7 linked regions of the Homo sapiens genome follow. The protein of the gene in region 1 purifies or fractionates together with the protein of each later gene. This does not show direct contact. Each region holds a gene or a part of one and is shown in the gene's direction. Other genes may lie near its edges.

The links.
Region 2: the proteins of PDPK1 (region 1) and OSBPL8 purify together in Homo sapiens (affinity purification with mass spectrometry; 2 studies listed by BioGRID and IntAct, with this or other methods). This does not show direct contact.
Region 3: the proteins of PDPK1 (region 1) and GPC6 purify together in Homo sapiens (affinity purification with mass spectrometry; one large-scale study listed by BioGRID and IntAct). This does not show direct contact.
Region 4: the proteins of PDPK1 (region 1) and GTF2I purify together in Homo sapiens (affinity purification with mass spectrometry; one large-scale study listed by BioGRID and IntAct). This does not show direct contact.
Region 5: the proteins of PDPK1 (region 1) and FGF2 purify together in Homo sapiens (affinity purification with mass spectrometry; 2 studies listed by BioGRID and IntAct, with this or other methods). This does not show direct contact.
Region 6: the proteins of PDPK1 (region 1) and GPC1 purify together in Homo sapiens (affinity purification with mass spectrometry; 2 studies listed by BioGRID and IntAct, with this or other methods). This does not show direct contact.
Region 7: the proteins of PDPK1 (region 1) and STRAP purify together in Homo sapiens (affinity purification with western blotting, with the first as the bait; one study listed by BioGRID). This does not show direct contact.

What each region holds. Positions count from the first base shown.
Region 1 is NC_000016.10:2,544,003-2,548,242, forward strand, and holds part of PDPK1 (3-phosphoinositide-dependent protein kinase 1), read left to right. Parts: intron 1-2,825; exon of another isoform or gene 2,826-4,240. UniProt on the Homo sapiens protein: Serine/threonine kinase which acts as a master kinase, phosphorylating and activating a subgroup of the AGC family of protein kinases.
Region 2 is NC_000012.12:76,367,587-76,371,826, reverse strand, and holds part of OSBPL8 (oxysterol-binding protein-related protein 8), read left to right. Parts: intron 1-242; coding exon 243-379; intron 380-2,004; coding exon 2,005-2,190; intron 2,191-2,525; coding exon 2,526-2,613; intron 2,614-4,240. UniProt on the Homo sapiens protein: Lipid transporter involved in lipid countertransport between the endoplasmic reticulum and the plasma membrane: specifically exchanges phosphatidylserine with phosphatidylinositol 4-phosphate (PI4P), delivering phosphatidylserine to the plasma membrane in exchange for PI4P, which is degraded by the SAC1/SACM1L phosphatase in the endoplasmic reticulum.
Region 3 is NC_000013.11:93,828,138-93,832,377, forward strand, and holds part of GPC6 (glypican-6 precursor), read left to right. Parts: intron 1-2,016; coding exon 2,017-2,408; intron 2,409-2,678; exon of another isoform or gene 2,679-2,818; intron 2,819-4,240. UniProt on the Homo sapiens protein: Cell surface proteoglycan that bears heparan sulfate. Putative cell surface coreceptor for growth factors, extracellular matrix proteins, proteases and anti-proteases. Enhances migration and invasion of cancer cells through WNT5A signaling.
Region 4 is NC_000007.14:74,744,520-74,748,759, forward strand, and holds part of GTF2I (general transcription factor II-I), read left to right. Parts: intron 1-238; coding exon 239-422; intron 423-1,363; coding exon 1,364-1,422; intron 1,423-1,817; coding exon 1,818-1,892; intron 1,893-3,495; coding exon 3,496-3,597; intron 3,598-4,240. UniProt on the Homo sapiens protein: Interacts with the basal transcription machinery by coordinating the formation of a multiprotein complex at the C-FOS promoter, and linking specific signal responsive activator complexes.
Region 5 is NC_000004.12:122,829,360-122,833,599, forward strand, and holds part of FGF2 (fibroblast growth factor 2 isoform 18 kDa), read left to right. Parts: intron 1-4,240. UniProt on the Homo sapiens protein: Acts as a ligand for FGFR1, FGFR2, FGFR3 and FGFR4. Also acts as an integrin ligand which is required for FGF2 signaling. Binds to integrin ITGAV:ITGB3.
Region 6 is NC_000002.12:240,438,327-240,442,566, forward strand, and holds part of GPC1 (glypican-1 precursor), read left to right. Parts: intron 1-4,240. UniProt on the Homo sapiens protein: Cell surface proteoglycan that bears heparan sulfate. Binds, via the heparan sulfate side chains, alpha-4 (V) collagen and participates in Schwann cell myelination.
Region 7 is NC_000012.12:15,885,174-15,889,413, forward strand, and holds part of STRAP (serine-threonine kinase receptor-associated protein), read left to right. Parts: intron 1-4,240. UniProt on the Homo sapiens protein: The SMN complex catalyzes the assembly of small nuclear ribonucleoproteins (snRNPs), the building blocks of the spliceosome, and thereby plays an important role in the splicing of cellular pre-mRNAs.

The sequences.
Region 1 (4,240 bases):
GGGATTACAGGCGTGAGCCACCGTGCCCGGCCTGCTTTACTATATTCTTTAGGGAATCATGACAATAAAAAAAAGTCTGTGCATGTTCAGTACAGATGCAATTTCTTGTTTTTCTAATATTTTCTATCCACTGTTGGTTGAATCCATGCATGTGGAGTCAACCTATGGTTGGGGATGGCAGACTGTATGTACTCTCCTGATAGGTGGTTACAAAGTGTTTCTACCTGAAGAGACCTGGTTGCAAAGCAGCATGCCCAGTATAACTTTCCTCAGGCCCAGGGAAAAGCTTGGAGGGAGGTTCCCACAGAAATATTAGCAGTGGTTTCCTGGGCCAGTGGGATGAGGACCACACATTGAGCTAGCAGTGGAGAAACAGTGGTGAATAAGGTAGGTCTGGCTCTGTCTCCTGGAACTTACTGGACTGAGGATGAACCTTTCTCCACTAATTTTTGTTCTGAAAAATTTCAAAACCGAAGAATAGTTGAAAGCATAGTACAATGAATATCCCTAGCCTTTTCACCTGGATTCTACCAGTTGTTAACCTTTTCCATATTTGCTTGTATACATTACCCCCTCACCTCCCCCAAATTTTTTTTTTTGAGACGGAGTCTCGCTCTGTCGCCCAAGTTGGAGTGCAGTGGCGCGATCTCGGCTCACTGCAAGCTCCGCCTCCTGGGTTCACACCATTCTCCTGCCTCAGCCTCCCAAGTAGCTGGGACCACAGGCGCCTGCCACCATGCCCGGCTAATTTTTTTGTATTTTTAGTAGAGACGGGGTTTCACCCTGTTAGCTAGGATGGAATTGATCTCCTGACCTCGTGATCCGCCCACCTCGGCCTCCCAAAGTGCTGGGATTTACAGGCATGAGCCACCACACCTGGCCCAAAATTTTTTTCTATTATTTTTATTATTTGAAAGTAAGTCACACACATGATAGCATTTCACCCCAGAATCCTTCTCCAGATGCCTTCTGAGCTCAGAAGCTGTCACCTGTACAACCTCTTCATCATCACATCCGAGATAGCATTAACATTGCATTTTTTTTTTTTTTTTGAGATGGAATCTCGTGCTGTTGCCCAGGCTGGAGTGCAGTAGTGCGATCTTGGCTCACTGCAACCTCCGCCTTCTGGGTTCAAGTGATTCTCCTGCCTCTGCCTCCCAAGTAGCTGGGACTTACAGGTGTGTACCACCAGTCGTGGCTAATTTTTGCATTTTTAGTAGAGGTGGAATTTTATTGTAACGTGGCATTTTCTAATGCAAAGGTGACGTGCAGCCTTCCTCAGTGGTCACCTGTCCTCCTCAAAGCTCTTTCTTGTTCTTCTTTCTTTCTCTCTCTTTTTTTTTTTTAGAGACAGAGTTTTGCTCTGTTGCCCAAACTAGAATGCAGTGGCATGATCATAGCTCACTGCAGCCTTGAACTCCCTTGGGCTCAAGCCATCCTCCAGCCTTAGCCTCCTGAGTAGCTGGGACTATAGGCCTGTGCCACCACACCTGGCTAATTTTTTTTGTTTGAGACGGAGTCTGGCTCTGTTCCCCAGGCTGGAGTGCAGTGGTGTGATGTCGGCTCACTGTAACCTCCGCCTCCTGGGTTCAAGCAATTCTCCTGCTTCAGCTTCATGAGTAGCTAGGATTACAGGCGCCCACCGCCACACTCGGCTAATTTTTATATTTTCAGTAGAGACGGCGTTTTACCATCTTGGCTAGGCTGGTCGCGAACTCCTAATGTCATGATTCACCCGCCTTGGCCTCCCAAAGCGTGAGATTACAGGCGTAAGCCACCATGCCCAGCACTGGCTAATTATAATTTTTAAAATTTTTTGTACAGATGGGGTCTCGCTTTGTTGCCCAGGCTGGTCTTGGACTGGGTTAAAGTGATCCTACCACCTGCTCCTCCCAAAATGCTGGGAATACAGGCATGAGCTACAGCAACCTGGCCAGCATTTCTTAAAATATGAGGGTAGTTGTCTCGTATTTTATATAAATACAGGATTCACAATCTGGATTTGTCTCATTGTTTCCTTGTTAGATTAGGTTCAGGCTAAGTATTTATGGCAAGAATACTGCTTAGGAGATGATGAGCTAAAGGTAACTTTTTTTTTCAAGATGGAGTCTCACTCTGTCACCCAGGCTGGAGTGCAGTGGCGCGATCTCGGCTCACTGCAACCTCTGCCACCCGGGTTCAAGCGATTCTCCTGCCTCAGCCTCCTGAGTAGCTGTGATTACAAGTGCCTACCACTGCGCCCGGCTAATTTTTGTGTTTTTAGTAGAGACGGGGTTTCACCATCTTGGTTAGGCTAATCTTGAACTCCTGACCTCGTGATCTACCCACCTCAGCCTCCCAAAGTGCTTTGAGACAGAGTCTCGCTCTGTCGCCCAGTCTGGAGTGCAGTGGCGCGATCTCGGCTCACTGCAATCTCCACCTCCCCGGTTCAAGCGATTCTCCTGCCTCAGCCTCATGAGTAGCTGGGATTACAGGCTCCTGCCACCATGCTGGGCTAATTTGTGTATTTTTAGTAGAGATGGGGTTTCACCATGTTGGCCAGGCTGGTCTTGAACTCCTGACCTCAAGCCATCTGCCTTGGCCTCCCAAAGTGCTGGGATTACAGGTGTGAACCACCGTGCCCGGCCTTCCTTAGTGGCCCTTCTAACCTTAAGCTGCTTTTCCTTCCTGACAGCGGGGCCCTACTCTCCTGGTCTCTTTCCTGCTTGGGCAAGGTGCCATGAGGCTTTTCCTAGGCCTTGACTTTGCTGTAGCTTCTAAGGTGTCCTGTGGCGGCAAAAGGGACGTGTGCTCTGTGGGTGGGTGCAGCCACCTGTAGAGCTGCAGCTATATCCGCAGGATGGTTGTGTGACTGATGGTCCTTGGGGAGCCCAGCAGTGAGGATCTCAGCAGCCCACCTGTCTCAGAGTCCCCGCTGTGCACCCAGGCCCAGGGCTCAGTGAGTGAGAGCTCTCCGACCTCGGTGGGGGCGGGGCTAATTGACCTTCAGACCCACCGTGTGCCAGTGCTGGCTGGCACACAGCACTGCTTGGACTTCCCCTGTGGGAAAGGATGGGGACAGATCAGTCTTTGGAAGAATGGAGCGCTGGCTTTGCTCAGCCCTGTTCTTGGGAAGGTTTGATCTGGAGAGCCGCAGCAGCCAGACCCTGGGGAGGCAGGTTAGTGAGCAGGCTCCCAACTTACGAGCTAGGAAGGCTGACGGCTGCTCATTTCCCCCCATGTGGACCTCATCAGGGGGTCCTTCCTGAGGGCGAGCGCTAGGTTCGTCTGCGTTTCTCTCTCCCAGTTGGGCCTGACTCTGGACGCCAGGCTGAGGGAGTACACAGCTCCTTCAGAGCACGGGCTCAGACGCTCAGATGCTCGGAGCGCTTCCGGCTGCTTTTCCATGGGTAACTCACATGTTCTTCCTGCAGGCTGGCATTTGTCTTTCATGGCTTTTTTCCATCGGTCAGAATTACAGTCTTTTGATTGTATGTACGTACCTGGTTATTATCAGATATCTAGTTTAAAATGTGCATCTGAATATAGATTTTCTTGGTGAACGCATTGCGTTCTCATTCCGTAAAAAGTCGGAAGCTCAAAATGATGCTTAAAAAAAAATCTTAGCAAGCTCTCCTGTGCAGATGCTGCTGGCGCTGAGCTTTGTGCCTGGGGCAGAAAGGGTGAGGACGGCCCCGGTTGGTTTAGGAAAAGTGGTTATGAACAGAACGGGCCCCATGCTCCTGGCCTGAGGAAATGTTGTGTGAAAAAGATGGCTTCTACAGCTTGAAGGGGGACGGTCCACCTGATGCTCCTGTCCCTCTCTGAGCCCCAGGGGCAGAAGGGAAACAGTCAATAGCACGGCCGTTGCAGATGGTGCCCATAGAGGGAGGGTAGTTAGTGTCTGAGCAGGAGAGGGTGACCGGCCTTTGTGGGGCTGCTTCAGAGAGCCGGGCAGAGTCTGGGCCCCAACGTGGACTAGCAGGGGAGGAGCTCTCCTGGCTGGGGTGGCGACTCGGGGAGGTCTGGGTTGCCTGAGCAGGGAATCGGCCTCCAGTGGGGGAGGTTCTGAGTGGGACGCGCTCTTCGTGTGGGCCTGGAGGACCTCTAGGCGGCCTGCACTCGCCTGATACAGCTGGCTTCTGCTGGGAGGCTGGGTTTGCATCCAAACTCTGAGACCTTTTGGACAAAACATGCCAAAGAAGTTGGTGGTAGTAAGAAATTCATACTAAACTTGTTCTGTTAGGGTTTTTTTCCTTCC
Region 2 (4,240 bases), on another chromosome or scaffold:
TCACAAACTGGATATTCAACCAAATTCTTTTTAATTAACTAGTATTACGTAGTCAATCTTAATGTTTTTATAAAAATGATAAGAAACTTGGAGTTTTTGGAAAAGTGCTAGTTATATTTGTTTTAAAAATGCTTTTAACTGGAGGATTAACCAGAAGAAATTATCACCGTCATATTACTATACTATATAATTGCCTTCTAAGTATAATTCTTTACATTAATTTTGAATTTTTTTAAATATAGGATAGTGAAGTTTTTATTACTGATAAAAAGACTGATAATTCAGAGGTTTTCTGGAATCCAACACCTGACATTAAGCAATGGAGATTAATAAGGCACACTGTAAAATTTGAAGAACAGGGAGATTTTGAATCAGAGAAGTAAGTATACTGTTTTACAGCTAACTTCATGAGGATCAGAGAGTAGTTTTTCAATTCCTTAATGATATGGTCATTTTGTCACCTTCTGTCATATCTTAATTCAGCAAAATAGTTTATCATTTGTGGAAGTGACAGTATTCTGTTTTTGTGTATATGAATGTCAAATATAATATAAATCGTCTTGCTTTTCTGTAGCTCAAAACTACTCATTTTTTTCTTTCTCAATTGTTCCAGCACCTTAAAAAAAAAGAAAGAAAGAACGTTTTTGTTTAAATAAGATTACAGGACTAATTAATGACTCTTAGTTTCTACCTGGCAACAGTTTTCTAACCTGATTTAAGCATTAGAACTCTAGGTAAAGGGAGTGGTGCAGAATCTACTTCTGTTCCATTCTCTGATACAAAAGTAAAGTTACTGGATGGACTGGCTTCTATAGGATTTATTAGTTGGGTAATAACTAAGGCTATCATTTCTGTTCTTAAGTCATGAACTTCTTGCTAGATGGCTTATATTTTTGAATCAGAAATATTGTATACACATTCCCTATTTTATTGTTGTTATATCTTTGTGTTAAGAGAAAGAGACTTATGTATAAGAGATATTTTGCTAGGCACTTAGTACTTATTATGCAACTTTGTCCTCCCTACATGTTTGCACATACATATCATTCTCTGTCATGGGAATTCAAGTCTGTGTACCTTCCCTTCTACACTCAAATTTGAGGTTGTCAAAGATGGAAGAATGTATATGTACCAGTTCTAAAAATTCTGTCTCAGCCATAACCATTTGATGTTCTTTTTCCAGAGATAAGCTTTGCCAAGGCATACATATGATAATTTGTGAGAGTATATAATTCAGCATATTTGAAGATGAGGAAATGAGACTTAGGATAAATAACTTTAAGTGCACCAGCTAAGAAGTGGCAGCTCTAGGACTTGACTCATGTCTATCTGATCCCAAAGCCTTTTCTGGTTTTAACATGCTGCCTTTCTAGATGGGTAGGATATAGATATACTTTTATTTAACAGAAGAAAGAACTAGTAGGGGAAATCATTTTACCTCAGTAGTCTTTTCTGTTAAACCAGTGGTTCTCAACACTAGCAATACATTAAAATATTTTGGGGAAACATTTAAAAAATATATCAATACTTGCGCCTGACCCCAGAGATTCTGATTATAAAAATTCTCTGATAATTCATGGATCCAAACTTCAGAAGCACTGCATTACATTAATGGATCTTTATGAAGCCAGTGAATCTTAAACAGTGTAAGACGCATCTAGGAAGCTTGCTAAAAGCGTAGATTCCTGAGCTTTACCTTCATTACATCCTATCATCTTGAGCCAGCAACACTTCAACACTTACTATCATGAGTTTAAGAGTCTATGTAGTAAGTTTCTCTTGCCAAGTAAAAAAAATTAGTCTCCACTTATGAACAGGTCTCTCTCTACTCAAGGGACTGGATTTATATCTTGACTCATTTCTAAGCCTATGAGCATAAGTGTTGTCAAAGCCAGAAATTCATGTGAGCATTATTTTCTCTACAAGGGATTTGAGGCCTATTCTATATAGATTTTATTTTCTGTTACATTTTTAATACTTTTAATATTTTCGCACATGTATTAGACTCTGGCAACGGGTAACTCGAGCCATAAATGCCAAAGACCAAACTGAAGCTACCCAAGAGAAGTATGTTTTGGAAGAAGCTCAAAGACAAGCTGCCAGGGATCGGAAAACAAAAAATGAAGAGTGGTCTTGCAAATTATTTGAACTTGATCCACTCACAGGAGAATGGCATTACAAGTTTGCAGAGTAAGTAACTTAAAATAGTTTATTTCAAACAATGTATTAGCATGGTTTGTTGCCTTTATTTCTAGAATATTTGTTGCTGGAGTAGTTTTTATTTAATTAAACCATGTATATTAGTGTGAGATTTTTAAACTTGGTTTTGCATTCATTATAAGCTTGACTCTATGATAGAAGTTAGCCTATAAAATAAGTTGAGGATCTGAAGATTAGGTATGGGGAAATCTCATTATTAGAACTATGTATATAATTATTAATAAAATTGGATCATAGAATAGAAAGTTTTAAAGTTCTTTGTTTAGTCATTGAGCAAATGGTTTTTTTTTTTTTCATTTATGTAGTACCCGACCATGGGACCCACTTAATGATATGATACAGTTTGAAAAAGATGGTGTTATTCAGACCAAAGTGAAACATCGTACTCCAATGGTATGTAATAAAAAACTAGGTACACTAGGTATATAAATCTGTTAAATCTTTAGTATCTATAGCAACCAACTAAAATTTGGTTTCAAAATTTAAAATTTTGGGTGAGCAAAATACGCAGCTCTGAACTCTTCTTACCCCAAAGAAACATCAGAAAACAAGCAAAAACTGTCAACTCAATTTGCCAGAACTCTGGAAAACAGTCAGAGGTGTTCAGCAACCAAGTGAACACTGGTCAAGAAAGTGCAAAGAGAGGAAAGCTTTGTGGCATTTTACCTGCCCTTGCCCCAGGTCCATCCCAGTGCAGTAGCAGTCTTGAAGAGCCCCTGCGTTGCCAGTGTAAGTCCCTAGTTCCAGAAGGAGCAGAGTGGACCTCATACACAATTGTGTATGTCTGTCCTAACCTGTCAGAATACTACCTGAAGGACTTACACAGGCACTCATCTCTGAGAAAATCAATAAAGACAAATTATTCAAGGGAGCCAAACAAATTCTGGAGCTGAAAAGTATAACAAAAATGAAAATTCACTAGAGGTATTCAAAAGCAGATATAAGCAAGCATAAGACAGGATCAGGAAACTTAGAGATAAGACCATAAAAATTATCCAGTCTGAGGAGGAGAAAGAAAAATGAATGAAGTGAGGTGAACAGAGCCTAAAGGACCCATGGGACACCATCAAGTGGGTTATCATTGCATTATGGGAGTTCCACAAAGAGAAGACAGAAAAATGAATGAAGAATATTTAAGGAAAGAAGACCCCCCAATCCCCAAATTTGGTGGAAGATATAAATCTACAAATTCAAGAAGCTCAACAAACTCCAAGTAGGATGATCTCAGAGAGACCCACACCACAACAAACTGTCAAAAGCCAAAGAGAGTCTTAAAATCAGCAGAGAGAAACAACTTATCACATACACTGGGGATCATCCATAGGATTAACAACCGATATCTTATAGAAACCATGGGGGCCAGAAGGCAATGAGATGACATATTTAAAGTGGTAGAAGCAAAAACTTGTCAATCAAGAATTCTGTATCTGGCAAAACTGTCATTCGAAAATGGGGGAGAAATTAAGACATTCCCAGATAAAAGCTGAGGGAGTTCATTACCACTAGACCTGCCCTACAAAAAAATGCTAAGGTAAATATGTAATAAAATGAAACTCAAAGCTGTATGAAGAAATAAAGATTTTTAGTAAATAGTTGGACAAATATAAAAGCTAGTGCTATTGTAATTTTAGTTTGTAAGTCCACTTTTTATTTCCTGCAGGACTTAAAAAATAAATGAATGAAAAATAATTTAATTACATATCTTTGTTATCAGACATACAATGTGTAAAGATATAGTTCATTACAACATAAAAGCAGAGAGGATGGAGCTGTATAGGAGGAAAGTTTTTATGTACTACTGAAGTTAAGTTGGTATCAACTCAAACTAGATTGTTGTAGAGGTAGGTGTAAATGTCATCCCCATAGTAACCACAAATGAAATATCTAAAAAAATACACACAAAAGAAAATGAGAAGGGAATTGAAACAGTTTACACAGGAAGCAAACACAAAAGCAGGCAGTAATGGAGTAAATAAGAAACAAAAAACGTATATGACGTATAGAAAATAGCAAAATCAGA
Region 3 (4,240 bases), on another chromosome or scaffold:
ATTGACCTCAAAAAGAAGATAAATGAATAGGCTGCAGAGCTCATGATTAGAATCCACTTTCCAGTCTCATTGTATTAGTATTTTTCAATTCAGTGATTTTCCCATTCTTTTTTATCTTCTTTCACAATCTGTTACGCCTTCCACCCTGTTCCTGTATCAGCAAGGCCAAGCTACTTTCATTCTTGGTTTCCAGATCGGAAGGTTTAACTTATGATATTCTCATACTTTTATATTAATAATTTAATATAGTTTCCATTTTAGGACAAACTAGATAACTAGCATTTTTGAAAAAAGTATGAAATTCTCTTGATTTCCTAAAATGATAAGCAATATCAGCATACAGCATATATAAATATTTTGATAAATTTATGCTTCTCAATTTTGCAAATTTCGCCCTATCTGCTTCAATAGTCATTTTCTTTACCGAATCCCTAAAGATTCAGAGAGATTTAATAATATTCAACTTTATTTTACATTTAGTAAAAATAAAAACCATTTGGTGACCTGGACAAAATTACACAGTATTTGTAATCCCACAGTTTTTGCTGCCACTGTAGCAACAGAATGTCTATTTAAAAATATATATATATTTCATAGAAAGGAGGTAAACAAATGAAAAGTACTTTCATTGCTGCTTTGGTCTGATTTGAAAACAAATATAAAACATTTATCATTATTATAGACACCATTTAATTATCAAGACAATGGTTTGATTGTATATTAATCAGAACTGAAGTGGCTAAACCAAGCACTTCTTCAGCCAACTTCTAAGAATGCACAAGTAGCTTCCATGGAATTAATGGAGAGGTGTTCGTCACTATTTCCTTTCTGTATCTTAGCAGAGAATACCCAGAACCCCAGAAAGGAGAAGAGTCCTTTTAAAAAATTCCTGGAGCTTTTGAAATATGCAGGACTTGATTTGTCCCTGCATTTCTGAGAAGGGGCATAGTTTCAGGCAATAAACGGGGACTATGAAGAGGTAAAGCAGAATCATTTTACTCTTGGGAACTTAGATTGATAACCTCAGAAGCATTATCTTTCCTTAGCTCTTTCCCTACCCCAATTTATAATCTCTAAATGAGATAAAACTTGAACTTGCTCTACCCAAGCTTATTTGTGCAAAAGGATAGGTGCCCTACACACACAAAGTGTGTCTTGAGGGAGACTAGCATGAGGGCCAGTGAGGCTAATGATACCCAATGGCTTTAATTTTTGTCTTATTTTTTTGCATCCTATAAGGGATCCCAGTAACACTCAAGCGCTGTTGCAAAGTGGAAGATTTGAATTATTGGTGTGCACTTTTTCATTTAGAACCTCATAACCAGAAAGTCCAATTGTCAATATTTTATTCAAGTTCTATAACATGATGGTTTATATTTGTAATGATAATCCAAGATACTTTAAGGCTTTCTGACTCATTATGGCCACCTAAATTATGCTCATTATAGCTTTATTATGAAGTGAATTTAATTGCATTATGAATATCTGAACATTGCTAATTGATTGCTATATATAGAAACTAGAAAGAGTCTAAAATATGACATTAATTTGAACATCTCATTTATGGACTATTTCAAATAAAAGCAATTTAATGGAATTTAGTGTTAGGACAAATTTATAAATAAACTGAAGCAAATGTGTTTATCATTATGTAAACAACAATACTCTGCACGTTATATTTGCAATATATTTTGATTTGAGTTTGTATCAAACCATAGGATTATTTAAAATTTAACAAGAAATGATTAAAGAATTGAGCTATTTTGGAGGAGGATTACATGGTAGACTCCTAATGTTAATGGAAATCATGGGGTATTCTGTTTTGAGTTGTACAAGGTCATAGATGTAGGTCAAATCCCATTTAAAATATGTTTTTTATCTGTCCATTAACACCTTAATCACAGGATATGTTTTTCCATGAAAATGTCAATTAAAAGCAGTTGTACTTAAGGTAAGTGGGTGCCTTGGGCTTTCTAGATTTCATTAATTTATGACTTCTTTCTGTTTTATCTGCAGAATTTTTCCGAGAGCTCCTGGAGAATGCAGAAAAGTCACTAAATGATATGTTTGTACGGACCTATGGCATGCTGTACATGCAGAATTCAGAAGTCTTCCAGGACCTCTTCACAGAGCTGAAAAGGTACTACACTGGGGGTAATGTGAATCTGGAGGAAATGCTCAATGACTTTTGGGCTCGGCTCCTGGAACGGATGTTTCAGCTGATAAACCCTCAGTATCACTTCAGTGAAGACTACCTGGAATGTGTGAGCAAATACACTGACCAGCTCAAGCCATTTGGAGACGTGCCCCGGAAACTGAAGATTCAGGTTACCCGCGCCTTCATTGCTGCCAGGACCTTTGTCCAGGGGCTGACTGTGGGCAGAGAAGTTGCAAACCGAGTTTCCAAGGTAATTGAAAACGTGCTTTCTTTCTCATTGGTGTTCCTTGTTTATTCTGTTTTTAAAACCAATGTTTAAAAAAAAAAAAAAAAAAAAAAAAAACCAAGGTAAAAATTCTTAATTGGTGGTCCTTGCTCTTAATCAGTTAAATATCAAAGCATAATTCTGGCTTTCTTTTCCTTGCATTGTGTGAGAGAGAACAGGATTTTAAGCCATTCTATGTGGTTTGAAAATTAATGTTAATACTTATCAGCAGTATAGCAGAGAAGCTTTTAGTACCAATGGTGCAAAAGCAGGCACGTTGCAACTATGATCATTTGATATTTCTGATCAGGGTTTTAAGGATGATAAATACTCATGAAAGAATCCATTCAGAGGTTATAATCCTCTAGGGAGTCAAGATGACAGTCTTCATGGACCTGCGAATGGAGACAAGTTATTGTTCAGGACATCAGCACCTGGCATTTCTTCTTTTTCAACACATGTCAATGTGGCCAAATTCCTTCATGGTAAAAGAAGAGCCCTTTGCTGACACCTGTATTACTGGATTAGGAAGGACTAATGAGTACCAAGTATAGATTCTCCTAGAGAATTTCTTTTGTTACCCCTTATCTTTGTAATTTCATACCATGCATTGCCTTGGGCTTATGAATAAGATCAATCATTAATCTACTTTTGGGCCTTTCTTGAAGATAACATCTCTATACCTTGGATATAAGGGATAATTCTACATTCCACTACTTAAACATTGAATATTTCCTGTGTAGAGGATATCTGCTTTTGTTTAAGTTCTTTCTTGACATTTAAGGCACTTGTGAGGTCAGTCCTCCAAATAAAATGAAAGACAATTACTTAAAGAAGTAAAGTTAAAAATAATACGTAACAGGAATCTGGTATTATGTCACTCCAAGAAGGTGTATTTGTATAAGGATTATTCCCAAACACTACTTTTCTATTGGAGGGCTGTGCCAAAGAGCCACAGTATTTTTCATAACTATTGGTACTGTCCTACAATGCTTCTTTTTTTTTTTTTGACACTTTGGTCTCCTCAATATTTACATCCTAGCATAAAGATGGTGTGTACCCTTACAAATGTTTCTCTATTGCACTGTCAGTAAAATCCGTAATAGCCCATTTTAAATTGTTAATTTCCTAAACGTTTATTTGAGCATACAGAAAGATTATTTCTAGGAAGGCGCTGAAGGAAATAATTACAAGGGCTTATTTATCAATATAAAGGGCATATGATTCTAATGTTTAAAATAATATCTTTGCCGGGCGCGGTGGCTCACATCTGTAATCCCAGCACTTTGGGAGGTTGAGGCGGGCAGATCTCGAGGGCAGGAGATCGAGACCATCCTGGCTAACATGGTGAAACCCCATCTCTACTAAAAATACAAAAAAATAGCCAGGCGTGGTGGTGGGCGCCTGTAGTCCCAGCTACTCTGGAGGCTGAGGCAGGAGAATGGCATGAACCTGGGAGGCGGGGCTTGCAGTGAGCTGAGATCGAGCCTCTGCACTCCAGCCTGGGTGACAGAGCAAGACTCCAACTCAAAAAAAAAAAAAAAAAAAAAAAAAAAAAAAAAATATATATATATATATATATATAATGTCCTTACATTGAATCTCAACAATGTTTTAGATACCAAAGAAACTAGAGCCCCAGAAATGCATTTATAAGGAATTAGCTAGGTAGAATAGCAAGAGGAAATATCATCACCTGAGGACTGTCAGTAAAATATGAATAAGTGTAGAAAATAAATATGCATTCCATATTTTCTTGAGTAGATGCATTTTGTTGTAAAATAAGTGTAAATTAATTTAATAAGTTAAACTCAATA
Region 4 (4,240 bases), on another chromosome or scaffold:
TAATAACATAACTCTCCTTTTGATTGAAAGTGTTAAAATGTTCCTCCTAAAAGCACTTATTTTTTAGGCTCGTTCTTCAGATTTGCCCCATATCCTAAGCAAAATGCCTTCAATATGAAGTGGATATTGCTTGACCGTAGGGAGCTTGTCCATACTGTACTCGAGAATGTAGACACAAAGAAAGAATGTCTGTGTCAAATGTTATCCTCCGCAACTTAACGTTCTCTTGCACTTTCAGCTCAAGCTCTTGGACTCACCGAGGCAGTAAAAGTACCATATCCTGTGTTTGAATCAAACCCGGAGTTCTTGTATGTGGAAGGCTTGCCAGAGGGGATTCCCTTCCGAAGCCCTACCTGGTTTGGAATTCCACGACTTGAAAGGATCGTCCGCGGGAGTAATAAAATCAAGTTCGTTGTTAAAAAGTAAGTTCTTTTTGCCACTGTAGTCGTTTCTGGAATCAAAACAATAAAATGACATTTCTGTTAAGATGTTTTTCAAGCTAGAGGTGACAGGCGTGGCTGTAAGTCCTTGATGGCAAAGCCTGGCTGTGAGCTGCAGTCCGGGTACTGTCCATTGCCCCTGCCCATACTCAATCATCTTCATCCGTGCAAGGAAAATAGTGACAATCGCCTCCGCGGAGTCACCGTGAGGCCCCGTGGTGACTCGCAGTATGCCTGAGTACTTGAATGGAAGTTTAATTTGCTGGTTTTTATCTGCTCTGTTATTCCTGGTCAATCTTGAGAGCGACTAAATATTGATGATTGAGTTTCTTTCTTTTTTTTGAGACGGACTCTTGCTCTGTCGCCCAGGCTTGAGTGCGGTGGCGCAATCTCAGCTCACTGCAACCTCCGCCTCCTGGGTTCGAGCAATTCTCGTGCCTCAGCCTCCCGAGTAGCTGGGATTACAGACTTGCACCGCCACGCCTGGCTAATTTTTGTATTTTTAGAATAGATGGAGCTTCACCGTGTTGGCTAGGCTGGTCTGGAATTCCTGACCTCAGGTGATCCACCCGCCTCAGCCTCCCAGAATGCTGGGATTACAGGCATGAGCCACCGTGCACGGCCTAATGATTGATTTTCTTATCTACATTTCTGCAGAATTTTAGTGGCTAAAGAAAGTACACTAGTGTTTTTTTTTTCTTTTTTAATGAAAATAGTCACTTATTTACTCTTCATAAAATGGCTTACCAGTCATGGGAAGGAAAAGTCAGGGTCTTTTGTCCACAACACTAGGAATTATTGTGTTACAGGATGATTCTGTGAATGCCTTTAGAAAAAAAACCCTGATCACATCACGACCGTTTTACTAGCTGTGAGGCCACCACTGTGCTGGCTACTGTAACACTTCTTGGTTTTCTTTCTAGACCTGAACTAGTTATTTCCTACTTGCCTCCTGGGATGGCTAGTAAAATAAACACTAAAGGTAAGAGACGACGTGTACTCCGTATCCTATTTGAGCGCATTAAGACACTCTTTATCCGCATTCCTTAAATCATACGGAATCGGCCAATATCTCTGTGGGGCTTGGAGTTGTTTACTTTGCTTTCTAAGGTATTTTATTTAATGGAACTATTTTTCTTTTTTTTTTTTAAAAAAACAAAACATTTCATTGGAAATGTCACATTTGCAATCCCAGTTCATTCATGTTTTCACAGCTTTGTTGAGCCCCTGTGGAGGATTACACTACAAGTTTAATTCTGCAGGTTTCTTTGAAAAGAACCAAACTGTATGAATTTTAATACTCTGCTCTTATAAAGCATCTCCTTCTGTATTTTTTTTTCCCTACAATATACAAAAGGAACTCTGCTTATTTTACAGCTTTGCAGTCCCCCAAAAGACCACGAAGTCCTGGGAGTAATTCAAAGGTTCCTGAAATTGAGGTCACCGTGGAAGGTAAGGGCCAGTCCTCGGTATGTTTCTGTTCATTCTCTAGTTTACTAATTATGTCAGTTCACTAGCTATGTGTTTATACAGGTTTATACAGATGACGTTAACCAAACTAGCTTTTAACTGTGAACAGCTGCCTGTGATAAAGCTAAATTTCTGAATGCTTCTAATTGAAAATTTTTAAATCCTTAATAGAAAACAGATAACATGGATCACATCATAAACTTCCCCCAAGAAAAGTCCTAAAATGCTTTTCCTTTATCATAACAAATAAGGGTGCAGAGTCATGTGGAATGTTTTATCTTTTTTTTCCTCTTCATTTTTTTCTATTGTTTTAAGGAAAGAAAGTTTAGGGTGGTTTAAACAGCAGTGCCTTGAATAAAAGTATTTTCTTTTTCTTTTTTGAGACAGAGTCTGGCTCTCTTGCCCAGGGTGGAGTGCAGTGGCACAATCTCGGCTCACTGCAGCCTCCGCCTCCCGGGTTCAAGTGATTCTCCTGCCTCAGCCTCCCAGGTAGCTGGGATTACAGGCGTCCACCACCAACTCCAGCTAATTTTTATATCTTTAGTAGAGACGGGGTTTTACCACGTTGGCCAGGCTGGTCTCGAACCCCTGACCTCAAGTGAGCCACCACGCCCAGCTGGTTCTTGTCTTTTCAGGCTCACAGTGTTAAAATACTGCATACAATACTAAAGACAATCTCCAACCAACTGTCAAGTATGGATATTTCTTCCATCTCTTCATAAATGCAGAAGGAAATCACTGCATTAGGATCATTCTCTACATCCCAGGTGTCAAGTTTTTAAATAAGAGTTTGCCGTACTGGTGTTGAGTGGCGCAGAAGTCCCTATTTAGTCATGTGGCACACTTTCAGAGAGCCTGCTTTCTCATAAGATAGCCAACAAGCATCCATGGACAACTTACACCTGATTAATTATTTCTGTTCAAAAATGCCAAGAATTAAAAATATATTGAACCCTTGACTTTCCTCCTTCCGGAAGAGATCAGAGGAAGATCTCTCTTATATACAAGATGCCAGCCTTTCCTAAAGGGCAGAGCCAAGTTCACGGGGCCTGGGAGGCCTGCTTTAAGAATACAAAATTAGGGCCAGGCGTGGAGGCTCACGCCTGTAATCCCAGCACTTTGGGAGGCCGAGGCAGGCGGATCACCTGAGGTTGGGAGATCGAGACCAGCCTGACCAACATGGAGAAACCCCATCTCTACTGAAAATACAAAATTATCTGGGCCTGGTGGCGCATGCCTGTAATCCCAGCTACTCAGGAGGCTGAGGCAAGACAATCGCTTGAAACCAGGAGGCAGAGGTTGTGGTGAGCCGAGATTGCGCCATTGCACTCCAGCCTGGGCAACAAGAGCGAAACTTTGTCTCAAAAAAAAAAAAAAAAAAGAAGAAGAAGAAGAAGAGAAGAAAAATGGGTTTCTGTAGAAATAGAAAAATGGTTTCTGTGGAACTCGCCGGAATGACAAGAATACCCATTTCAATTTGAACCTAGCTTTGTTTTCTGGCACAGGCTGGACTTGAAGATTGTAACCTAGAGACACTTACGTCATTAAATGTGTGTTGATTATCATTATTTTTTCTGTCTTTTAGGCCCTAATAACAACAATCCTCAAACCTCAGCTGTTCGAACCCCGACCCAGACTAACGGTTCTAACGTTCCCTTCAAGCCACGAGGGAGAGAGTTTTCCTTTGGTAAGTAAGCGTTTTATTTTTCTTTCTTTCATAGTTTTAAATAGAATACGTTCATTATGTTTCATTTTACCAGGTGAATTGTTCCTATTGGTGAGTCAGTATATATCAAAGGTTAAAGGAATAGCCCGTAGAGCCAGGCTGCCTGAGTTCAGATCTGAGTTCAAATCCGATGCCACTTGGGCAGGCGAATACACCCTGCCTCAGTTTCCCTTTGTGCAAAATGGTAATAACATTACTTTCTTTCTCATGAGGTTATGGTGAGGATTATAAATACTGTCATTTAAAGTACTTAGAACCATACCTCGCATGTAGTAGAGACTATAATTTGTGGGGGCATTTTGGGGGTTTTCATTTGTTTTTTCTTTATTTTAGCATTTGTTCACTTATTTGTAGTCAACATAAAAGCAATGTACTAAAACAGTTTGCTTATGTATCAGGATGGGAGTAGTTGTCAAGTCATATCATGGTAAAAGATTATGCATTTTTTATTTCTTCTTAAAGATGCACAAATAAGGCCAGGCGCAGTGGCTCACGCCTGTAATCCCAACACTTTGGGAGGCCGAGGTGGGCGGATCACCTGAGGTTGGGAGTTCGAGACCAGCCTGACCAACATGGAGAAACCCCGTGTCTACCAAAAATACAA
Region 5 (4,240 bases), on another chromosome or scaffold:
CAGGTAGAGGCCGGGGATGCTGCTGAACATCCTACAATACACATTATAATACCCTCAACAAAAACATTTTTGACCCCAAATGTCACTAGTACTCAGGTTGAGAACTCTGCTAACTTTATAACTAGCTAAGGACAAGACATTAAAAGGGAAATGTAGAATAACTCATCCAGACTTGTGGAGACTACCAATTTTTTTAAAATTTTTTATTTCTATAGGGTTTTAGGGACCAGGTGGTAGTTGGTTACATGAGTAAGTTCTTTAGTGGTGATTTGTGAAATTTTGTTGCACCCATCACCCAAGCAGTATACACTGAATCCAGTTTGTAGTCCTGTCCCTCCCCAACTTCCCACCCTTTCTTCCCAAGTCCCCAAAGAGACTACTCTTTTTTTAAAGGATACCTGTACCAGGCAATAGACTGACAAGAATACAAATCTAAAAATGACAAATTTCATCTATTTCTATGTAGCCCAACCTGGACATAAATTTAAGTACAGTATATTATTTTCTCACATATTGGATGTTTACTGATAGTTGACCAAACCATGAGGAGACCCCCCAAAACAAATAAAACTGACCAGAAAACATGGAGAAGAGTTAATAGTAGCCACAGTTTCCTACTACATTATGGCTCAGATTTCTAGACCTGTTTGAAAAGTTGAAAAATCTATGGTCTCATTCCTCAGACTGTTTTGTCCAACTGACCTGAACATCTGTCACTGGAATTTTTTTTCCTTTGGCATGACACTTTGTGCCTACATGTTTTCTAAACTGCAGGTAACTTTTGAAAGGCCAAGTTCAACCATTATCAGATTTTAACATTTAGTATGGATTAAATTGTGAGTGCAATTTCTTCCCCAAAAGCTGGCCAGAAGGACTGGAGTTTGGGGAGGGATGCTTTGAAGACTGTGATATAAATGATGGGGTCCTGGAGAGGTGCAGGGGAAGAGGAGGCAGAGTGGGAAGCTGTGAGGTAGGAAAGAGAGGAAAATTTTCTAAAAGAAGAGGTAGGAGAAGATGACACAACACAAATGTTTCCAATTTTTCAGTGTTGCTGAAGGTCAACTGTGCTTCACACCTGGGCATTCTCCTGAATTTGCACTCAAAAGGGCCCATTTTCTGGCGTTTTTCTCATAGTCCTGGAATAATCTTCATTTGACATGAGAGTCTTGATAAAAACAAGATGTTAAAAGTGGTTAGAGAGTTTCTCCTTCTCCAGCATGTGCGCTGCACTCCTGCCTTTCTTTTGGCATCCTTAACTTTTGGCAGGCCTCTTTCAATGCGGTGGGAATGGATAATATTAAGTATGTACTCTAAAGTAGCAAGCTGTGTAAAAACATTCAGAAGAGAGAACACTTTATCCCAAGCAGCACGTACAACATGTGGTAGAGTATAGTAAGTGAAATGTATGCTGCTTATGTACACTTAGTATTCAATTTATTCCAGGTGCTCTTATTTACAAAAAAAAAAAAAAAAAAAAAAAATGAGAGTAGTTAGAAGTACTGTATCTACCCTTGGGCTTCTCCCAGGAGGTGACTGCCTGTGTGCCACACTTCTTTGCTTGCAGGCTCCAGAGGACGCTGAGACTTGGAAAGGCAGACCTGCCCACCCCAGTGTGGAGCAGGGGTGGCTTGTAGGTGGGCCTGACCCCTGGGCTCTTTGCTACTGCATGTGTTCCATGCAACCCCAAGCATAAAAACATGGACTTGTGAAATCAAAGGGAGGCTTCAGACCTTCTGGTTTACCCATCTCTTTTTACAGAAGAGGATACTGAAGCTCAGAAAAGTCACCAATTACTCAAGTTCACTTGTGGGTTTCCTCTTTTTTTATCCTGAATGAGCTTCTTACCACCTGGTCCCTTGCCTTCTCTTCCTGCCATCCCTCAGCCTCAGTGCGCTCTTCATTCCACCATAGAGTGTGCCCTGCTGGACCCCACTTTGGTTAGGCTTCCTCCATTTCAGGGTAGTGAGCTGCTAGCCCCTTTGAAGAGTTCTTACTAGTTTACGGGTGCCTCAGGTTGATTTCCTGGGGTTTTGGATAAAGCCACCTTTCCATCTCTTCACTACTGCCTTTGGGGTAAATAGAACCATTGATTTAATAATACACGTACTAGATTCTCTCCCCCCACCTCTCTTTGGTAATATCTGGCAAGTGGATAGCAATAATTTTACTTAATGAACGTGATATTTACTGTAATAAATATTGGGTGCAGTAAACAAATGAAGTCAGAATCTAATAGCTCATTTAATCTTGGAAATCATGTAATCAGTACAGCAATGAAAGGACAATTCATGAGTCATAGATATTACCACACCTTAGGAGCCTTTTAAGATGAGTTTGATGCCAAGTGACTTCAGCCTAGAAAAGGCAATATCCCCTCATGACATGCCCTGAGGGGTTTCATTTGTTTATAAAATGACCGTTATGTAATTAGACTTTGACAATGGTGTAACAATTGGGTTTTAAGTATTCTCATTTTGATTTATGATGCCATTTTATGTGGAAGGACATAATTTTAAAGTTTAATTAGAAAATAAAATGTTACAGATGTAATGAACAAAACAAGAACGGTTCTTTAAATATCATAAGCATAAAATTGACTTTCTTCATCTATACACTGATTCTGAGAACTCATCATCAGTGATGTTGAAAAGACAATTTAAGGTCTCACATTATTGGAACTACTATTTTAAAACCACGAGATGCCTGTACAAGCTGGTAATTACACATGTGCTGTAGTCTTTGCTTGTTTTTCCAATTCTAGTGTTTGTTGATTTTCCAGATACCCTACTTGGGCCCCTATGTCCCGTAGCACACGTCTGTAAGAAGGCTGGCATGGGATAAAAGTCTATGACCATGAAACGGAGCAAGGCAAATCTGTATCTTTGGGGCACATATCTTTTTCTTTTTTTCTTTTTGAGACACAGTCTTACCCTGTCACCTAGGCTGGAGTGCAGTGGCACAATCTCAGCTCACTACAACCTCTCCTTCCTGGGTTCAAGCAATTCTTCTGCTTCAGCTGTGATTACAAGCACCTGCCACCGCACCCAGCTAATTTTTGCATTTTTAGTAGAGACGGGATTTCACCATGAATTTTCCTGGCTGGTCTCGAACTCCAGACCTCAGGTTATCTGTCCACCTCAGCCTCCCAAAGTGCTGTGATTACAGGCGTGAGCCACCGTGCCCAGCCTGGGGCACAAATCTTAACCTCATCAGGATATTCTGTCCAAACAAATGTATTTTGTTCTGTTTTATTTTTGAGTTTGTCCTTTTCTGTGCTCTGAAATTAGGATCTGGTCTAGTACTTAATTTGTATATTGTCAGTGCTCAATAAATAGTTAATGCTTGATTGTTTGCATAATAATTTGGAATAATGATTATCAGTGTAGAGTTTTAGCTGGATCATTAGAAAATGCACTTATGGCACTGTGATTTTAAGTGTTTCCTTGTTGTATCCACTGTTCAGTTAGCTCCTGCTTTCTCTTTTCTCCCTTTAATAATGACCGCCAACAAGGCCTTTTAAGCTAGGTTATGTATAGCCACAGGAATTTAGGAGAGGAGGAAAAGAAAAGTGGCAACTTCCAGGGGAACTCACCCTTTGAGCCATAGACTGTGGTTCTTAGAAGCCAGACCAGTCTCATTCTAAACACCTTCAGAATATTTTTAGTTTGAAGAAATTGGAAGGGCCTGGAGGCAACAGACAGCCAATATTCAGTGTTTATGTCTCATCCAGCTGTCTTCTGTCACTCTTCCTGCACAAGGTGACTTTTGACTTGACCGGTGTATCTTTGATACTTACTCATTTACAGAAATGTATAATGGATGTGTGTGTGTGTGTGTGTGTGTATGTGTGTATTTGTATTTTTATAGAGCTATTGACTTCTGCAATTTAACCTCTAAGATGAATTATCCAATAGAATTCTGAAATGAAAAGTTCACAGATTTTCAAGGTATTTTGGAGATTTAAAAATTGAAGAGAAGCTATGTGAATATTAAGTGTATGTTCCAGATATAATTGAACAATTGAAAGGAATGATCCTGGTTTAATTTATAATTAAGCTATACATTAATTTATAATGAAAACTTGTAATTAAATGATAACTCAAATTAGCCAAGAAAAAAGTATTTTTTAAAAGAAATTTGTACAGAGTAGTAATGATCTGGCTGCATTCTGTGAACAGATTATTCTCTGTTCATAATTTAGGCACCTTAAGATGCTGGCACCTTAAGGTAGGAACCATGA
Region 6 (4,240 bases), on another chromosome or scaffold:
GTGGGCTGAGGGAAACAGGGTGACTCCCTCGGGTCGCAGCAGTCCTGGGGCAGCCAAGCCCAGTGTCCCCTCCTGCTTTGTCGGCTGGGCCTGGGCTCCGTGGAACGGGCGCCCTCTGGTGGCCCCTGGGCGGCAGATCCTCCCAGGAGCCCTGGACCCTCTGTGGCCTAGTAGGCACCATTCTCAGTCCCCTCTCTCCTGCATCCAGACTTCTCCAGGGGGACCTCCTCAGAGGGAATGCGAACCCCCTGGGGTTGGGCACCTCGCTGGCCCGGAGCAGGTGGGGTAGAGATCTGATACTTCCTCGTGGGAAGGAGAGCAGTTGGCCCTGGGTGTGTGGCGGGCCTTCCCAGCCTCTGCCCCAGGGACCAGAAAAGGCAGTGGGTGACAGGAGACTTAGCTCATGAAAGAGGGCAGTGTCGGGACATATTGGGCTCCCTTTTGAGACTTCCTTTGTCCTCTGGACAGCCAGGCCAGGCTGCAGTGACAGCAGTGGTCATCCCATTTTATGGGCAAGGAAGCAGGCCTGGGTGCCACCAGCTGGACGGTGGCACTGCAGCAGGGCACCCGGCCACCCTCCCTTTATGCCAGGGCACGGCACAGAAGGCAAGGGCGGAGCCGAGTGGCACCCCGGGTGCCCCTGCGCTGCCAGGAGCCCTCATGCTGAATCACTGCCCGCGTGCCAGCAGGCCTCCTGCTTTTGCTTGCAAGGTTGTGTCTGGGCATAGGTGTTCCCAGAGCACCTGTCTGGCCTCCTGATGTCTGATGTGATGTGATGTGTGTCTGTTTGCTCCTTTGCTGGGGTCTCAGCGCCCCACCTTGGCACCTGAGCTCCCTGGTCGCTGGGACCACCTCTAACTGTTTCCCTGTTGTAGCCACAGAACCCGGCTGGCTCCCGGCCCAGGATAGCTTCTCGGAGGACACCCCCAGGCCTTCCTGGCTTTATACCTGGCTGTGCTGGGTGGGGAGCGGGACATGGAGGGTAGAGGAGGGTCTCCTTGGAGCAGACACCCCTGTTCTCAGGGTCTCCCAGCCTGAGGCAGAGGAGGGGCCCTAAGGTCTAGTTTTGGGGGCAGAAGTCAGAGTGGGGCATGGGACTGTCGGTGGCACAGAAACTGCCCAGCCGCTCCTGTGCCCAGAGTGGCAGCCCGCCTACCAGCTGGAGCGGGCACCAGCGTGCCCTGGAGCCTGTACCAAGCACCCACTCGTTGGGCCCCTCCGAAGGAATCTTTTCTTCTCTGTGCCACTTTTGACCGCCTGGGTGGTTGGCACACAGACTCTGGGGAACCATCCTCAGAGGGCCTGGACCTCTCCTTCCCACATCCCTGAAAGGGTGTTTCCGGCTGGGCCCGGGAGAGCCCACCAGCATCTGCTTCTCAGTCCTGCTCAGCGGGCCTCTCGGAGGCTGCCTGGCACACAGCCCCTCACCAGACCAGACAGTTCCCTGTGCCCTGTCCTGTCCAGGTGGCTCAGCGTGGTTCCCAGGTGGTCCTCAGCCTTTGCTGTGTCGCTGCTCTTCCCTCCATGAGAGGAGCTCATCATCCCCAGCGTGAGGACCGAGCGGAGCCCAGGGGAGCCCTGATCCGACAGGGCCACCTGCGTGATGCAATGGCCTGGGTCCCTGCTGGACCGCCAAGCCTCCCATGCCAGGCAGGCCACAGCACTCCTCAGGCACAGATGCCCCCACCCCCATCCCATCCCCGGTGTCCCCGGGCCTTTTCACAGGAGAGAAAGGGAATAATCGTGACCTCCTGTGAAGGTGGCCAGGAGGGAGAAGGTGCTGGGGCTGTGCACCTCGTGGGCAGCCTCGGGCTGTGTCCCCCCTCTCCCCGGACACCCTCTGCAAAGGCCCACACACACCCCTCTCAGTTAATGGCATCCGGTACCCTAAGAGCACTCATGAACCCGGGTGCTCTTAGAACACGGGGAAACCCGGCTTGTGGAGCGTTTCCCATGACTGTCTGGTTAACACATCAGACGGAAGGGGTCTTTGTAGACCTGTTTTACAAATGAGTAAACCGAAGCCTGGTGAAGCGCTCCTCTTAGGGCCAGATCTGGCTACAGCATTGACCACTGCCCAGTAAAGCCAGGCCAGGCTGCTTGTCCCAGGCTCTGCACTTCTTGGAAGGCTCGTGCTTTTCCCAGCCCGCTCTCCTGTCCTGGGCCTGGGCTCCATCTCTTAGGCTCATTTAGAACGTTTAACCGGGACTCCTCCTGGCCTCCCTGCCTCCGGTCCTGCCCAGCTCCTCCTGGCCTCCCTGCCTCCGGTCCTGCCCAGCTCCTCCTGGCCTCCCTGCCTCCGGTCCTGCCCAGCTCCTCCTGGCCTCCCTGCCTCCGGTCCTGCCCAGCTCCTCCTGGCCTCCCTGCCTCCGGTCCTGCCCAGCTCCTCCTGGCCTCCCTGCCTCCGGTCCTGCCCAGCTCCTCCTGGCCTCCCTGCCTCCGGTCCTGCCCAGCTCCTCCTGGCCTCCCTGCCTCCGGTCTTGCCCAGCTCCTCCTGGCCGTGCCGCCCAGAGAGTCGTACTTCCACACAGCTGGGCCTCACCCTCCGGCCTGGCTCCACTGCCTGTGGGGGGCAGGACTGCTAGGAGGGCTGTTCCCAGCGTGTGCCACGAAGCCCTGCATGTCCCCAACAGGGCAGACCAGCCACCCACACTGGGCCAAGTGCCCCAGGATTAGTGGACAGGTACCCTATTCAGGTGCCCACAGGTGCCAAGCCAGGGAGATAAGGCAGTCCAGTCTGTTGGGGCTTGTACCTTCACACCAGCAATCTCTAGGGACAGTGTGAGCCTGTGGTTAACGCGCCTTCCCAGGTACCGAGGACGCCTCCCTACAGCAGGACGGGGGGCATACCTACCTGGTGGCCGAACCGCAGGGCTGCACATCAGACCTCGGAGGAGAGCTTAGTGGGTGTCTGAGCATGCCCATGTCTGTTCTATGGCATCCATGTGCATGGCACAGGTGTCAGCCATGGGCTGGCACTAGACAGGAGACGAGCCAGGGGAGGGGCTCACCCGAAGCCACACTGGTCAGGTCTGGCCTGGGGCCCCACATCTGCCGTGCCCGGGCCAGTGAGAGGCTGGACGCCTTTTCTTAAGCCAGACCGTCCTCACAGGGCCTGGCTCAGTTATTTCAGATCAAGACTGGACCCGTGGTGGAGGCTGGGGTGGGCACTCCTACATGCGGGGCCTCTGCCCAGCCCTGGCCCTGTCCAGTGTCGACGTGCCCAGAGCCCTGAGCCGGCCTGGATCTTGCCAGTCGCCAGCACAGCCCTGTGGGGCCCGGGATCTTGCCCACTTTACGTGGGGGCTCCAGACAGGAGCCGCCTGCCCGGAGCCTGGGCTCCTCGCTGCCGTGCCTGTGGTGGCTTTTCTTTGTCTGGGAACAGGCCTGGGCAGGTGCCCTGAGCCGCTTGAAGTCTCCTGACGGGGTGGGGGGTGCAGTGTAGGGTGTTGAGGCTTGGGCCAGGGAAGCGGGCGGTTCTCCCTCCACCTCCAGGCCCCACACCCAGGCGGGAGCACGCAGCAGCCAGGTGTTGGGTGAGGGCTATGCTGAGGAGCAGGGCCCAGAGCTGCAGCCTCCTTGGCTGCCCTTGGCCCGCCGTGGGTGGCGGGGAAGTACAGGTGTGAGGGGCATACCCCACTGCCCCAGGCTCGGTAGCAGTCTGGAATCCGGGTGGGTTTAGGAGCCCCTGAGAGGGCCAGGCCAGCCTCACACCATCCCCTCTCCTGCCTGTGGCCTCAGCTCCATCTCCCGCCAGCTCCTGCTGACCCACCTTTCTGGCACACCTGTCCCCTCCCTCCACGGTGTCCTCCCTGTGCCCACCCACAGCACCCGCCTCCTCCGGCCTTTCCCCACAGCTTGACTTCCCGGGCATCGGCCAACACGTACCCTCCCTGTTGCCGGGGCCCCCGCCTGGGCAGGCCTGAGCTCCACACAGGGTGGGGAAGGCCCCGAGTCCCTCCCGGTACCGGGTGGGGCTGGGTGCCGGGGTTGGGAGCACAAGTGTTTCCAGGGCTGTCGGAACAGTGCCACAGGCTGAGCAGCTGCAGCTGCAGACATGGGTCGTCCGTGGTTCTAGAGCCTGGAAGCCTGAGATCAAGTGTGCGTCCACCAGGCTGGCCCCTTCTGAGGCGTGAGGAAGTCTGCTCCACACTGCCAGCTTCCAGGTGTTCCTTGGCTGGTAAATCCCACCTTGGCCTCCACAGGCCGCTCTCCCCGTGTGCGCTTCTGTCTCCGAATT
Region 7 (4,240 bases), on another chromosome or scaffold:
AGTGGTGTTTTTTTTTTTTTTTTTTTTTTTTTAAAGACAGAGTCTTGCTATGTCCCCAAGGCTGGAGTGCGGTGGCACAGTCTCGGCTCACTGCAACCTCCACCTCCCGGGTTCAAGTGATTCTCCCACCTCAGCTTCCTGAGAGGCTGGGACTACAGGTGCACGCCACCACGCCTGGCTAATTTTTGTATATTTAGTAGAGACGGGGTTTCGCCATGTTGGCCAGGCCGGTCTCGAACTCCTGACCTCAAGTGATCTGCCCGCCTTGGCCTCCCAAAGTGCTGGGATTACAGGTGTGAGCCACCGTGCCTGGCCTTTTTTTTTTTTTTTTTTAACAACCTCACACTAAGGAGCAATTGTAAATCTGCTGCCTCCTTCATTTTAAGTACATTAAACATACCAATTTTAGAATGAAAAAATGAAGGCTGATTGACTGTGGTGGCAGATACGTGACTGTATGCTCTTGTTTATTGAAACAGTGTTGTTTTTATGCTTTCTTAACATTTCAAGTCTCAATGTCTGTGTTTACAAGTGGTGTATTAAGAGCATGAAGGCTGGAGCCAGATGACCTGAATTTGAATTGGTGGCCTCATGCACTTTATTTAACCATTTTTTTTTCTGTCATGGTACCTAATTCATAGGTTGGTTTTGAATATTAAATAAGTTAATATGTTTCGAATACTTACAACATTGCCTGAAGTCTATTACACCTATGAAAGTGTTACATATGTAAAGTAACGATGATAGCTACCATGTAAACTATCACCACCCGCACTTGATCAAAATCACATATTATTTTGAAACTAATATGGCTAAAGCCTTCAAACTATTTGGCCTCATATAAGGAAGATTGAATAGATTTAAATGTCAAGAAGGAAGATTTTTGTGATTTTTTTTTCCCCCTCCTCAGTTAAGGCTTTAGGTGCTGTGTTAGAGTGGAAAATAATAACAAGCATTGGCACTAGGTGGGCTTGCATTCGTGTGCTAACTATGCTGTGTATTTCCAGTTTGATCATCATAGGATTTTTTTTTTTTTTTGAAACAGGGTCTTAGGTGCCTAGGCTAGAGTGCAGTGGCGTGATCATAGCTCACTGCAGCCTCTATCTCCCAGTCTCAAGCAGTTCTCCAACCTCAGCCTCCTGAATAGTGACCACAGGCGTGTACTACCATGCTTGGCTAATCTTTGTGTTTTTTGTAGAGATGGGCTTCACCATGTTGTCCAGGTTGGTCTTGAACTCTTGGGCTCAAGCGATCTGCCCACCATGGCAGGATGTTTCTTAAATGTCGGCTTTCATATCTGTAAAATGGGACTAAGACCCATGAGATTATTGGAGGAACAGAGAGATCTTTCTCCACCATATATCCCTGAAGTCCAATATGATCTCTGTCACATAGTAGGTGCTCAATAAATGCTAGTTGAGATTTATCCCTCATTTCCTCTATGTCTTGTCTGTGGGGTGTAGGAGCGTGTTTTCATGTGCGTGTTTGTGTGTGTGTGTATTCTCTCCAAGAAGTTACTCCCCACAGCCTACCTGATTAGTCATGGTTGGTATAAAGCATTTTTAGAAACAATTTTTTTTTCCCTCCATTCTTACGTTTCTTGGAAAACTCATTTATGGTGTGGTCATTTAGAAGTGGAATTTGGTCCCGTTTCTTGTGGAGAAATTTAGCAGAATAGGTCTGTGGACTAGTGTAGAATGTTATCTTGGAGTAATTCGGGCAATTGAGTCCAGTGTTGAGTACAGTGTCCCTAAAACACCATCTCTTTGTATCTATTTGGGAAGAGTGCCAAAGTAAAGACAATTCTGTGCTGTGCTCCCAAGAGGGCTTAAGTAGATCTGGGATTGGGTCCAGGAATTTATAGGTAATCACAATGTATCACTCTTTCTTTCTTGTAAAGCCAATAGAAATATCTAATTTTAGTTTTAATAAGGTTCTTGATAAATCGAAAATGGTATTATCTCCTAGATGACTTGGTCAACATGTTAAGGTATTTGGGCAATTTTTTAAAAATCTTAAACTGGCCTGTTTTGTTGAAGGTTTAAATAAGTAAGTTAAGCAGCTCCTATTATGAGACTTACGGTAAGTTCATTCTGAGGATATGGAAAGTATCAGGCAGCATTATTATTTGCAAGAAACTGGGGTATAAGAGGTAACAGTAGTTTAAGGAGATGACAAGTACTTCGTGGGATGTGAAGAAAATGTTGGAGGGTTAGCTGCTGAAAGGGTATTGTTAATAGCGCTTTACTGTCTTGATTTGAGCCCTGTGGCCAACTAATATATGTCAATTTCTTGCCTGGAGATTGAATAATACATTAGGAAACATTTAGATTAGATCCATTTTAGGGCTCTTACTGTGAATAATGGAAATCTGCCAGAGTTAGTACATGCCCTGTCAGAAAATGTCATGCCTCTATTTTAGTACTGTTTCTAAATAGGAGGAAAAACTACAGACACATTACCTCTCTGGTTAATATTACTACTTTGGTCACTCCAACTCTCTTCTCACCTTTGAATAGACACAGTCTAAGCAGAATCTTAAGATTTTAGAGCTGCCATGTTGGCGTTAGCCTGTAGCTACTTAGGAGGCTGAGGTGGAAGGATCTTGAGGCCAGGAGTTCAAGTATAGCTTGGGCAATATACCAAGATCCTGTCTCAAAAAAAAAAAGAGAGAGAGGTTTTAAGTTTATGGGAGATTATTTAATAAACTTGAAATTAGCATATCAAAGGACATTGCCCGGGTTTCTTTGGAGACTTGTGAATAATTAGAATAGTAATTTTAGATACATTTGTTGTTTTCTTCACTTTTGATGCTTTCTGTCATTCTAATACTTGTGAACCCTTACCACAACCATGAAATGCATTTCACTGTGATTAAGGATATATGTAAACAAAAAACAAAGCAAATTTAAGCACCGTAATAAGTGGAGTTCTGTGGGAGAACAGAAAGGAATGGTTAATTATTGGAGTTGAGGATAAATAGTTTCAAAGAAAAGATAGCATTTGAAATGAGCCCTAAGGGTGAGTAGAACTTTAATAGCTAAGAATGTAAAATACAGACTTAAGAGAATAATATAAACAAGAACATAGGAGCCTGGAAGAAAATACGTAAGTTATTTGAGGAGTGGTTTATAATCTAGTGTTGCTAGATTCAGAGAAACAATACAAAATGAGGTTGGGAAAGTAGATTGGGGCCAGAGAGTTGCATTGGAATGACAGAGAGAGGAGCAAGTTTCCTGGGCAAAGAGAAATGAATACTAGGGAGTTTAGCAGCAAGGCTACTTATAGTTGACATTATTTCTTTCAGAACATATTTATTCAGCCACTCACATGACCCACATTATTAAATATTGCAAGCTTTGGTAGTGTATCATGAGCATTCCTGTTAGATGGTCTTTCATATTCATTAACCACATTGCACATGCTATTAATGCTTATCTAGAATAGCCTTCCCTTCTTTTTCCCCTGATATATTTCTCTTTGCTTCTTCCGACGGCTAGCTCTGTTACTTACATTTTCTGGACAATATCTAGGTGCTTTTTTCTGAGTTTTTATAGCCATATATATGTCTTTTAATTATATTTCTTAAATGTGATATTTAATGCATGTTTTTCTCCTCAGCTAAAGCTCTACTATGGCAAGAACCTACTGTGGGGTATTTTTTGTCTCCCATTTGTGCCTTAGCACTAAGTATAGAATGATATATATTTAATATATTTTATTATGTATTGGGGTAAGCAAAAGAAAAGATACATCTTGCTTTTCTCTGATTTTTTTCCCTCTACCATTTTATTGCCCACTGTGTTCCTGAAAATAAATAGCAGTTGCATTAAAATGGAAATCTCTATGGAACATAGCTTTTTCACTCTTAGCAATTCTTTTCCCTGTCTGCAAAGTTTTCTTGTTTATTTTTCACTGACCTGTTCTGATCTAAAATCAACTTTTTTTTCCCCCTTCCTTAAGCTTTTTTATTTGGGGGAACCCTTTTAGAGTAATTTTGTAAAGTATTGCTCAACTATTACCCGCCCAGAATATACATACACATATAAATGTATGTATACCTATAACCAACTTGTATTTTGGGGTGGGGTGGGACAGAAAAAACAATGTAAAGATTAAAATAGTCAGTGTTAGCATTATATAATCAAAGGCTGATAGTTTGGGGGAAGTTAACTGTACTAGAGTTTGAAATTTTAAGTCAGCTTTGAAGAAGAGATGAAGTGGACATTGTCTCTCCACT